2 separate regions of the Homo sapiens genome follow, and region 1 is linked to region 2. The links come from fine-mapping of genetic effects on gene expression. Tissue or cell type: monocytes after LPS. Region 2 holds a variant in brackets; the other region holds the start of a gene. All regions are shown on one strand. Distances are from middle to middle.

Evidence for each region. PIP is the estimated chance that this variant, and not a neighbour inherited with it, causes the effect.
Region 1: IL36G starts here. The variant in region 2 is fine-mapped to the expression of IL36G in monocytes after LPS (Fairfax 2014, PIP 0.95).

What each region holds. Positions count from the first base shown.
Region 1 is chr2:112,974,924-112,980,072 of GRCh38, forward strand. IL36G (interleukin 36 gamma) reads left to right here and starts at 3,083. Exons shown (of 5, transcript NM_019618.4): 1 at 3,083-3,155; 2 at 3,697-3,770; 3 at 4,298-4,402; 4 at 5,086-5,149. The coding sequence starts at 3,716.
Region 2 is chr2:113,070,544-113,075,692 of GRCh38, forward strand. IL1F10 (interleukin 1 family member 10) reads left to right here. Exons shown (of 5, transcript NM_173161.3): 2 at 2,168-2,227; 3 at 3,786-3,871; 4 at 4,180-4,307; 5 at 4,609-5,149. The coding sequence starts at 2,196. The coding sequence ends at 4,821. Among named protein-coding and RNA genes, the nearest start is that of IL1F10, 5.1 kb to the left of the region's middle. The variant A/G (reference allele first, on the strand shown) is at 3,065.

The DNA of each region.
Region 1 (5,149 bases), 96 kb before region 2:
TGTTACTCTGTCCTTCATTTAAATAGCGTGTTGGCCTATGTGCCAAAGTCTGGGGTTTCATAGAAACCAGCTTCAGGAAGATGTAATGGATCAGCTCATAGGAAGCAAGTCTTTGATAATGGGCTTGGGCTATGTGGAGGAGCAGAGGCTTTCGGCCATGTCCATGCACATCATTCCATCTACGTTGGGTAAAGGCTTTACCACAGAGCCTATGCCAAGAGCTTCCTTGGCATTTTCCCAAGTCCACTAGAGTACAAATGGCCCCACACTGGTCTCTGTGGTTCATGGTACACACCATGTTGCCCCACCAATTTAAGCGAGATGAATGCCAACTTCTTTCCAGTGGCAATCTTCAGGCCAGGTTGCCAGCCTGCTTGTAGATAGCCCTTGATAGGTAATAGGCCACATGGCTTTGGTCCTCTTTGGGGGCCCCAAGGAGGACCTATGACTCCAGCAGAGAGCTCTGCATTTGGAGTCCGGAGTTATAGATTCTAAGTTTAATTTTACTACTAAGGTGATTTTTTTTATGGTTGGCAATGGTGGGGGCTGAATAACCTTTACTGCTCCATGGCTCCCTCTGCTTTGTTATGATTGTGTGCCTGGTTTCATGAAAAAGGTGTTGTAGAGATTCTAGAGATTGTAGTGGTGGTCAGTAATCAAGTTCTCTTACCCTACCTGCATTTCATTGATATTCCCTCAACTTAATAAGGTAATGAGCATGTTAAGTGAACAAACTAGTAGCAGGGCTTATTACCAAATGAATGTAGATTGACAGTGTCATAGAGCTTGGAAATTAGAATCTGGACTAAGTGTTTTCTTAAAATCATTTTCATATCTAGGGAATTTGGCCTTGTCAGTACTTATGGTAATTAAATTCAAGCCACACTTAATGATAAGCATCATTGTCATTGTTCTCCATGATAATAAATCGTTGATAATAAATAAAACAATCAATGGTAATAAATAAAATATAGCAACGCTATGTTCTTTACTTTTTATAACCAGAATCAATATTGATGGTTTTCTCAAGTACAGCCAGGGTATCATGTAATTATAACATCCATCCCTTCCACTTTAAGATAAACGTTCGGGGCCATTTCTTCAGTAGATGTGATCTCTGCTCTTTACTGATCAACCCCAGTGATTCAGTTCTCCCCTTTTATCATCATCACTCCTACTCCCTCCAATTTCTCTGATACTTATTCACACTAACAGTTAAACTAGGGACTTCAGGATGGATGCTGAGTGCTGGGAATTCTAGGAAGGGCTGGATTCTCTGAGTGCTTGGAATCTATTGAAGGGTCAGGACCAAGTGGAATGAGGGCGGAGGCTGAAGAGGACACATGTCACCCTCTTTTATAGTTTTTGCAACCTTCATCTGGGCGTGGGAAGTTCTAGCTGTACCCACAGGCTTTTGAACCAAAGAAAATTCAGCTGTTAGAGCTGTGTCCTGTGAGTCCTCTGAGCATCCTCTTCTTGACCCCTCCCCTCCACCTTCATGCTCCAAGCATTGACCAGACTGTACTCTCTTTTCAGAGGTCTGAGCATCAATTTGGCAGAGAACGCCTCACCTCCGACTCATATCTGGGGATAAGTCCTACAAAAGCGCTCCTTTGAGACCTAGGTTCTTTTGTTCCCTTTTGTTTCCTTCCTGTAGTTGTTACTATCTGAGATACCACAGCAATCCCTTAATCTTCTTTGGCTTTCCAACACACGTGTATCTAGTTCCTTTTATTCAATTCCCTTTGTTTGCAATTCCTAGCATGGATTCTGCTTTCAGAGGGATCCCAGTTGGAAATTCAGGCTTAAGGGATTTGGGGGGTCAAATGATGGGAATTTTAGATGCTGTTTTGTGGTGAACATCCCAAGAAAGGAGTTATGTTGACTGATGTGTAATGGAGGGGATTTTTAACAGGGCAATGGAGACTCAAGTGAGGTGGCACTGGCTCAGGTTGACTTTGAACAAAAGTGCACCTGGCATTACCACACTCTTTCCTAGGGTCACAGAAACACTGGAAGCCAAAAGTGATAGAATTGGGGCCATGGCAGGAAAGGACTGTGTTCTTCCAAGGCCAGAAAGGAGATTAGGGTGAAAAGTAAGAGACGTTGAGTCAGGAGACTCTTTGCAGGGCTGGGAAGAGGGGCTCATGGATGAGCTTATCTGGAAGGTTCTGTCTCATTCTTTGTGCTTTTCTTCCTTATAGATGGGTAAACCTGAAGCTGTTAGTGCTTCAAGTCTGTCTCCTAAAACTCACTTCACTCTAGTAGTTAACTTATACCTCAGTAAATTTTTAGGCTTGGCTACAGCAGATAGGATGGGGTGTATAAACAAGATATAAAAATAACTATTACCACTGATCAGGAACCTAGGGCAGAGGGTGGGGGATAAGCTGGCATCTGGGGCTCAGATTTGGGAGAAATCGCTGCCCACCTCTTTACTTCCTTAGGCAGTTCTGGAGTCCACTGCATTTTGAGGGTACCTGAAACTAGGATTGCCTCAGTTAAAAGACCAGTCTGCATAGTCCCTGTGGCTCCCCATGTGGATGGAGCTGAAAGAGTGTTAGGTAGGGGAGCTCTACTGCCTGGCTTTCCATTCAGGTGTGGCCTTAGGTGGGGTAGTTGAGAAATGCCACAGGGACCTTGCCTGAGACGTGTGGCTAATTTTGCTCTTACAGGATGCCTTTAGCCTGACTGCAGAGGGCAAGGCTCCCAGTCCCAGGAGATGGAGTCCCTGACATGAGAGTGCCTGGCATTTCCAGTTCTAGCTCTAGAATGACATGACAGGAGAGCTGAACTCTGGGAAATTCCCTTAGTTTCCCCTTTATGAGAAACCTAGGATCTGTCATCAACCTCATTTCCTTGTGGTTGATTTTGTGCGGATTGGCTCAACACTTATTTCTCAGCGAGCCCGGACAGGTGATACTTGTGCTAATTCTGTGATTTCTTCCTCCGAGCCTCACAGGATCTTCTGGTAGGAGGAGCTGGTTTTCTTTCATGTCATACGTTTCTCATGCCCCACCCAGGAAGCTGGAGCCTCCTTCTCTGCTCATCCAGATAAATGATCCAGGCTCCATTAGAACCCATCACTGACCTTGGAAGCTGCTGGAGCCACGATTCAGTCCCCTGGACTGTAGATAAAGACCCTTTCTTGCCAGGTATAGTCAATAGCTGGAAAACCTCTTCTCCCTCCCTCTGGAGCCTTTCCTCTCATCTGTGCTTTGGGCTTAATGAAGGGAAGGGCCACATCAGGCTGGCTCTGTGCTTTGTCCTATGTGTGGCTGCTTCTTACTGGGGAGTTGCTGGGATCCTGGCAGAGTGGCCCTGGCATGGGACCCTCCCCTGCTCCTAGGCAAAAACAATGCCGATGAAGGGGTGGAGGCTTCAGAGAAGAGGAGTCAGGGCATCAGGTGCCTGTGGGTTATTTAAGGTCAAATTTTATGCCTGGCCTTCGAACTCCTAGGGGAGACACTACCATACTATCTGGATCTCCAGGTGGAGGAAAATTCTACCTGTTCTCCCTTTGCTGATGCTTCCTTCAAGTTTCGTCCCAGATGTGGCTCAGAACTTCTGCCCAGAGCTTCGTGTCAGGCCAGGTTTCCCAGCTCCCTGTCTAGAATGAGGGCCTGTGGAGCTAGTGTCCTGGAAGGTCTTGGAAACATCTCTTGTGGTTCATCTGTTCTATGTCTGCTTTCACAGGTGCTGAGACAACCACACTATGAGAGGCACTCCAGGAGACGCTGATGGTGGAGGAAGGGCCGTCTATCAATCAAGTGAATCAAATGCTGTTGGGATGGGGCTCTGGAGGCTTAGGCCCTCTGCACTCACGCTATCTCCTGTGGAAGCCCCAGCCTTCTCTGCTCCTCTCTGTACACTGCCCTTCCCACCTGGTGCTGCCCACCTACCACTGGGCCCTGGGCTTCTGGAGGGTGGGAGCTATTGCTTAGTCACTGATCCAGCTCCAGTCCCCAGCACCGGGGCCAAGCACAGAGTAGGCACAAAAGAGGGTAGCTGGGCCTTGGCACACAGGTTCTGTGAGACTGCTCATTGCCCTCTGTCTTGATAGTTTGCCCTCTTAAACCAGTGACTTCCCTTGGTAGCCCTTGCCTTCCTCACCAGAGCTCACAACTTCACTAGAAAGAAAGGCTAGGCTGATGGGTGATGTGAGTGCTGTCAGTTTGGGGATGCAAACCCCACACCTTCCTTACAAAATGGCCTGGGTTAGATACTTTTCTCCTGGGTCTAGTAAAGCAGCCTTGATTATAATATTTCTTCATTTTTTTCTCTATCCCAAAATCAGTGTGTAAACCTATTACTGGGACTATTAATGATTTGAATCAGCAAGTGTGGACCCTTCAGGGTCAGAACCTTGTGGCAGTTCCACGAAGTGACAGTGTGACCCCAGGTGAGTGGTCACCCTGTGCCTTCCCCACTGTTTGCACTGCTGTGGCTGGGAAGCTGGCATCAGCCTTTTGTAAAAGTGTGACTTTACAATGGGGCCCACCAGGAGTGGGGAGAATTTCACACCTAATTGGGAAGAGAAGTCAGGGAGAACTTTGGGTTCCACTAAGATGAAGAAGCCAGAGATGGTGGAGGAGCCTCCAAGGGAATAGGAAAGCTGCTGTCAGTCATCTGAAGCCCTGTCTTATGGAAGACTAGTAGCTTGTTCTGCATGACTTCAGGGTGTCCTAAAATGACTAAATGGGTGAATACCACAGAAAGGCAGGTTTCAGCATCACATTGGGAAAAACTTGCAAAAGGGACCAAGCTCTCCAAGAATCAGAGGGGCTGCTTGATGTAGGAGCTCCCCATCTCCATGTGCTCAAGCAGAGGCGTGAGAATCTCAAGAGCATACTCTGTTGTCTGCTTAGCTCTCTGTGTTTGCTCATTTACTAGGGCAGTGATTGGCACATGGTATGAATGAATGAATGAATGAATGAATATGGGGGTTGGCCATTTGGTGGGTCTAGTTGGGATTACACTCTTCAGCTCTCTTCCAGATCCACTTGAGGATACTGCCCTGCTAAATCAAATAATCTTTCTGACTTCAAAAGGAAACTGATACCATCTCTCCTCTTATCTTTACAGTCACTGTTGCTGTTATCACATGCAAGTATCCAGAGGCTCTTGAGCAAGGCAGAGGGGATCCCAT
Region 2 (5,149 bases):
ACACTGCCCACTGTCCTGCTGCTACAACCAAAGAAGCCCCAGTGGTTTGGCCAAGGGGAGCCCATCATCAAGTGGGCTTGCATTGAGGCCATGATGCTGTTGAGTTATCTGTACTGGGGGATTGTCTAGTCCTTTAGGACTCAAAGTGCTGGCCAGGAGGAACCAGCAGCATTGACATCACCTGGTTGCATATTTGAAATGTACAGTCTCAGGCCCCACCCCAGGCCTGAAAAACCAGAATCTGTTATTTTAACAAGAACTGCAGGTGGTTTATATATTTATTAATAAGTGTGAAGAATGGAATGAAAGTACACCAGTTCCCAAGCAGCATGGCTGATTGCTGGAATCACTCCAAGTCCTACTGAATTAGAACCTTCGGCCCAGGAAATAGTAATTATACAGAGTCCCCCAGGTGATGCAGATGGGCAGGCACATTTAGGAGCCAATGACTTTAACTGAACACTTCATTTAAAAAATGTTGAAACTTACTTGATACTACAAAGGAAATTCATGTTCATTATAGGAAAATGTTGATATGTTTAAAAAATTACTCATAAAGCCATAGGTAAGTGGTGCAACAACACGAGTAACATTTCTATGTATGTGTCTCTATGTGTGGATTTAAATAGAATTACAGTGTACACTTGATTTATAATCTGCATTTTTCACCTAATATATTTTGAAAATTTTTATGTCCTAAAACAAGCTTCTATAATATCATCTTTAACAAACACATACATCCTTATTTATTGAATTTTGCTATAATTTCTTAGCCAATTACCTATTACTGAAAATTCAGATTTTTTTCAACTTCTTGCTATTGTAAAAAATTATGCAGTGAACATTTTTGTAAGTAAACATTTGGGCAATCCGTTATTTTTCCTAAGAGTAAGGGAAACACATGCAATCACAAAGTATACAGAATGCTTTAAGACTTTCATTCACAGCACCAACATCCCTCCAGAATTTGCACTTGTTAGTCCCTATTATCCTTCACTCTAAGTCTCAAAGTCATACCCCAAGGCCTGGGGACAGAAAATGACTTGTCCAAAGTGACAGTGACAGACCCAGTACTAAAAGCCACCTTGGCTACAGCCCTGTTTCTGGAACTTGAGAGCTGAGGTGGTTGGAAGCCGTATCCTCAGCACCCACCTGTTCCTTCTCACCTGCCTCCCCAGGGTCCCTCAGCATCTCTCTATTCCTCCCTGAGCCCTATTACTTTCTTCCACCTGCCTTCTTCCTTTCTCTTCTCTCATTTTCTGCTTTCTTATATTTTTTCTTCTCTATTCCCTTCTTATTTGGTGAGAATCAGATCTACTCGGTAAACCTCAGCCCTAGTCATACTTGCGTTACTTTCCTGAGCTAATTTCCAACTCCTGATTAGCTCTGGGTTTATTTCCATGCTAAATTCTGGACTGGCCTTTCCAATGGGTGTTCATTTTAGGGAAGAGCTCTAGGACAGGATAACCCATCGGGAAGGAGCAGAGTCATGTGAGGCTGTGTGGCCTGGCATTTATACAGGGCCACTATCTTCACTGTGCCATTTTCCATCTGGAACAGAATGGGGGAGTTTGGATGGGCTGTTTTCGGCAGTCTTGGCCAAGCACTTCTAGTCACTAGGAATGATGTTTTCCAACTCTCTGGGGAGACCCCACCAGCCTCACTGCTGCTGGAGACCCCTTCTAGTTGTGCTCTCTTCTTTCACTCTGGGCTCTAGTTATCTAACCCTTGGCTAGTTATGGGGGCGGGGGTGTGGTGCCCTGTTGGCCAACAGGGCAGTGGGACTGGGTTTGAGCTGGGCTTATCCTCCAACTGTGAGGGAGGCTACAGCACACTCCACCCCACTCTCAGGGCTGGGAATTGTTGTGGCTCAGCTATTTGGGGGAATCTGTTTTCCAGTTTCTCAGAACCAGCGCAAGCACACACATCCCAGGCTCACACCCCTGGTGGCTGGACTTGCTCCCGGATAGCCTCAGTCAGGGAGAGGCAGAGCTGCCTGGAGCCTGCTGGGCTGGTGGAAGCCTTGGTGGATTCTGGCAGGCCAATTATAGACGAATGGCCTGGGGAACCCGTGCAGCCCTTGGCTGAGTGGTTCTAAGCCCCAGCACGTCTGCCTCTGGCTTCACCCAGCCTCCTTTTCTAACTGCCCTTCTCTCCTCCCCATCAGTGAGGACCAGACACCACTGATTGCAGGAATGTGTTCCCTCCCCATGGCAAGATACTACATGTAAGTTGTCCTGGCATGTCCCTGCTTTCCAAGCCAGGGGGTCAGGGTGGGAAGAGGAAAGGAATGCTGAGTCAGAGGATGAGGCTCCTTCTCACCTTAGAAATTGCAAGTGCCCCATAATTAAGCTTCATCATCACCACAGTAGCAACAGCTCTTTCCTGAACGTCTGCAAGATGCCAGCCAATCTACTGCCTCATCTCTGTTCCAAAAAGTCTGTAAGTGGAGTGTTATTAAACCCATTTTACAGATCTGGAAGCTGAGGCTCAAAGAGGGTAAATAACTTCCCCCATGTCACACAGCTACCAAAAGGCAGAGCCAGGAATCAGACTTCATGTCCTCTGTGCTGCTCCATCCGCCTCTCTGAAATGTCAGAAAGTTTTGAATCTCAATGACAGCATCTTGATGGTGGTCCCTGTGGCCTTTACTCCCAGTGTGGGCTTCTAACACTTACTTACATTTCATCTCATTTGAGATTTGCATCCTTCCTTATCTTTTACTACTTTGTTGTCTGTGATTTTGTCATAAGCTCCTTTCAGGAAGGAGGTGAGGCATAAGAAAAATCAAAGAGGACTCTGGGATGCATTTCCTCTGCCCCTCCCATGGACCCTGTAATGTCCAGGGCTGTGTCCTGGACAAGGTGGGTGGGGAGCAGTCCTGGTCTCAAGGAGGTGACAGCCTGGCTGGGAAGCAAGACACATACATAGGAAGCACATAAATGACAAAGCAGATGTCAGCACTTCAGGGCATCTAATCTGGGTTCTGGTCTCCAAATAGAATGCTGCTGGCATGTGAGTTGTCACATCTGGGTTGTCAAGGTGGCAAGGGGAATGCCAGATA[A/G]CACGCCCAGGATCTTTCCGGAAGTTTATTTTTATTGTACAAGTGAACCTGCTTTAAATATGTACAGTCATTAGCTAAGGGTATTATCGTTAGCTGTTATTGAGATAGAAAAATCCCCTGGAGGTGGTGGAATTTGTCCAGAGGTTCTGCCCTAAAAGGTTAATGAGAGCTCTCCAGCCCTGACAGCAGCTGACAGGCATCTTTGAAACCAACTAGGTGACTGAGCTAATACCCTGCATGACTTTGAAGCCTTTAAAATATCTGAAAAGCAAATCACACTTCAGTATACACTCAATCTCTGTACTAAAGAGAATAAACATTTATAAACAATTAGGGCAGGCCCAAAAAATTTAAGATAAGGTCCACTGTATCCCAAAGTCATCTGAGCCTCACTAAGAAATTTCTCAGGAAGCCAGGAACATTTTCTTTACCCCTCTGTCAGAGGGCATTGGCTCTCCGTTCTCCTCTGAAGGCCTCCCCAAGCCATGAGAAGGCAGGAAGCACAGCCTCTGAAAAGCAAGAACACAGGAGACCTTCCTTGCTTTAAGGCTGGCCTGGTCTTTACCTGCTCTTGGGAGTGACCATTCCCCTCTTACCACCTGTGAAGGAGAGAAAATCGCCCAAATGCTCAAGGTGGTGATTCAGAGCATGGAAGTGGAAGGGCTTGGGGGCCAGTGGTGCATAAAGGGAATGGGCCATCAGCACTGTCATACTGTTTCAGAATTAAATATGCAGACCAGAAGGCTCTATACACAAGAGATGGCCAGCTGCTGGTGGGAGATCCTGTTGCAGACAACTGCTGTGCAGGTGAGCTTCTGGGGCCTCCACCCCATGCTCCATCTGCCATAGGCCCTCCCTTCTCTTCTTCCCTTTCCTCCCCAGCAGAGGGTCAGCAGCTGCCCCCAGTGACAGTGAGAAGGGCCAGAGAGCAGCTGTGGCCTCTCCTAGCGAGGGGACATGACTCCTGCAGAAGTCCTGGCTCACCGTCCAGTCTGCATGCAGGGCCAGGCCAGGTGTGCCCATGTCCAGTTCCTTCCTGCCTGAGCCTTTACCTGCCAAGAGCCTGCAACATGGGGTTCCCTTGTCCCTTGACTCTTCTCTCTCTTCCCTCCTAGAGAAGATCTGCATACTTCCTAACAGAGGCTTGGCCCGCACCAAGGTCCCCATTTTCCTGGGGATCCAGGGAGGGAGCCGCTGCCTGGCATGTGTGGAGACAGAAGAGGGGCCTTCCCTACAGCTGGAGGTGAGAGGCCTCTCCCCATTCTAGGGGACACTGCAGACCTGGCCTGACCCCTGGGATGCTCTGGCATCTTTGTGCCTATCTGTGGATTCCCAGCCAGGTCCACATGTCCTACTTCCTCAGGTTTCCACCATCTCCCTCTGCACCTAGCACCAAGACCCTTGCCCTCTAGAATCTGCAGAAGGCAGTCCCTTGGGTAAAAACCAGCCCTGTCAGGTCCTTTTTTGGCCAAGCCCCAGAGGCCTCCAGGGCTAACACCTCCATCAGCACTCTCATTCTGCAGCCATCCACCTTGCCCCCACAGGATGTGAACATTGAGGAACTGTACAAAGGTGGTGAAGAGGCCACACGCTTCACCTTCTTCCAGAGCAGCTCAGGCTCCGCCTTCAGGCTTGAGGCTGCTGCCTGGCCTGGCTGGTTCCTGTGTGGCCCGGCAGAGCCCCAGCAGCCAGTACAGCTCACCAAGGAGAGTGAGCCCTCAGCCCGTACCAAGTTTTACTTTGAACAGAGCTGGTAGGGAGACAGGAAACTGCGTTTTAGCCTTGTGCCCCCAAACCAAGCTCATCCTGCTCAGGGTCTATGGTAGGCAGAATAATGTCCCCCGAAATATGTCCACATCCTAATCCCAAGATCTGTGCATATGTTACCATACATGTCCAAAGAGGTTTTGCAAATGTGATTATGTTAAGGATCTTGAAATGAGGAGACAATCCTGGGTTATCCTTGTGGGCTCAGTTTAATCACAAGAAGGAGGCAGGAAGGGAGAGTCAGAGAGAGAATGGAAGATACCATGCTTCTAATTTTGAAGATGGAGTGAGGGGCCTTGAGCCAACAAATGCAGGTGT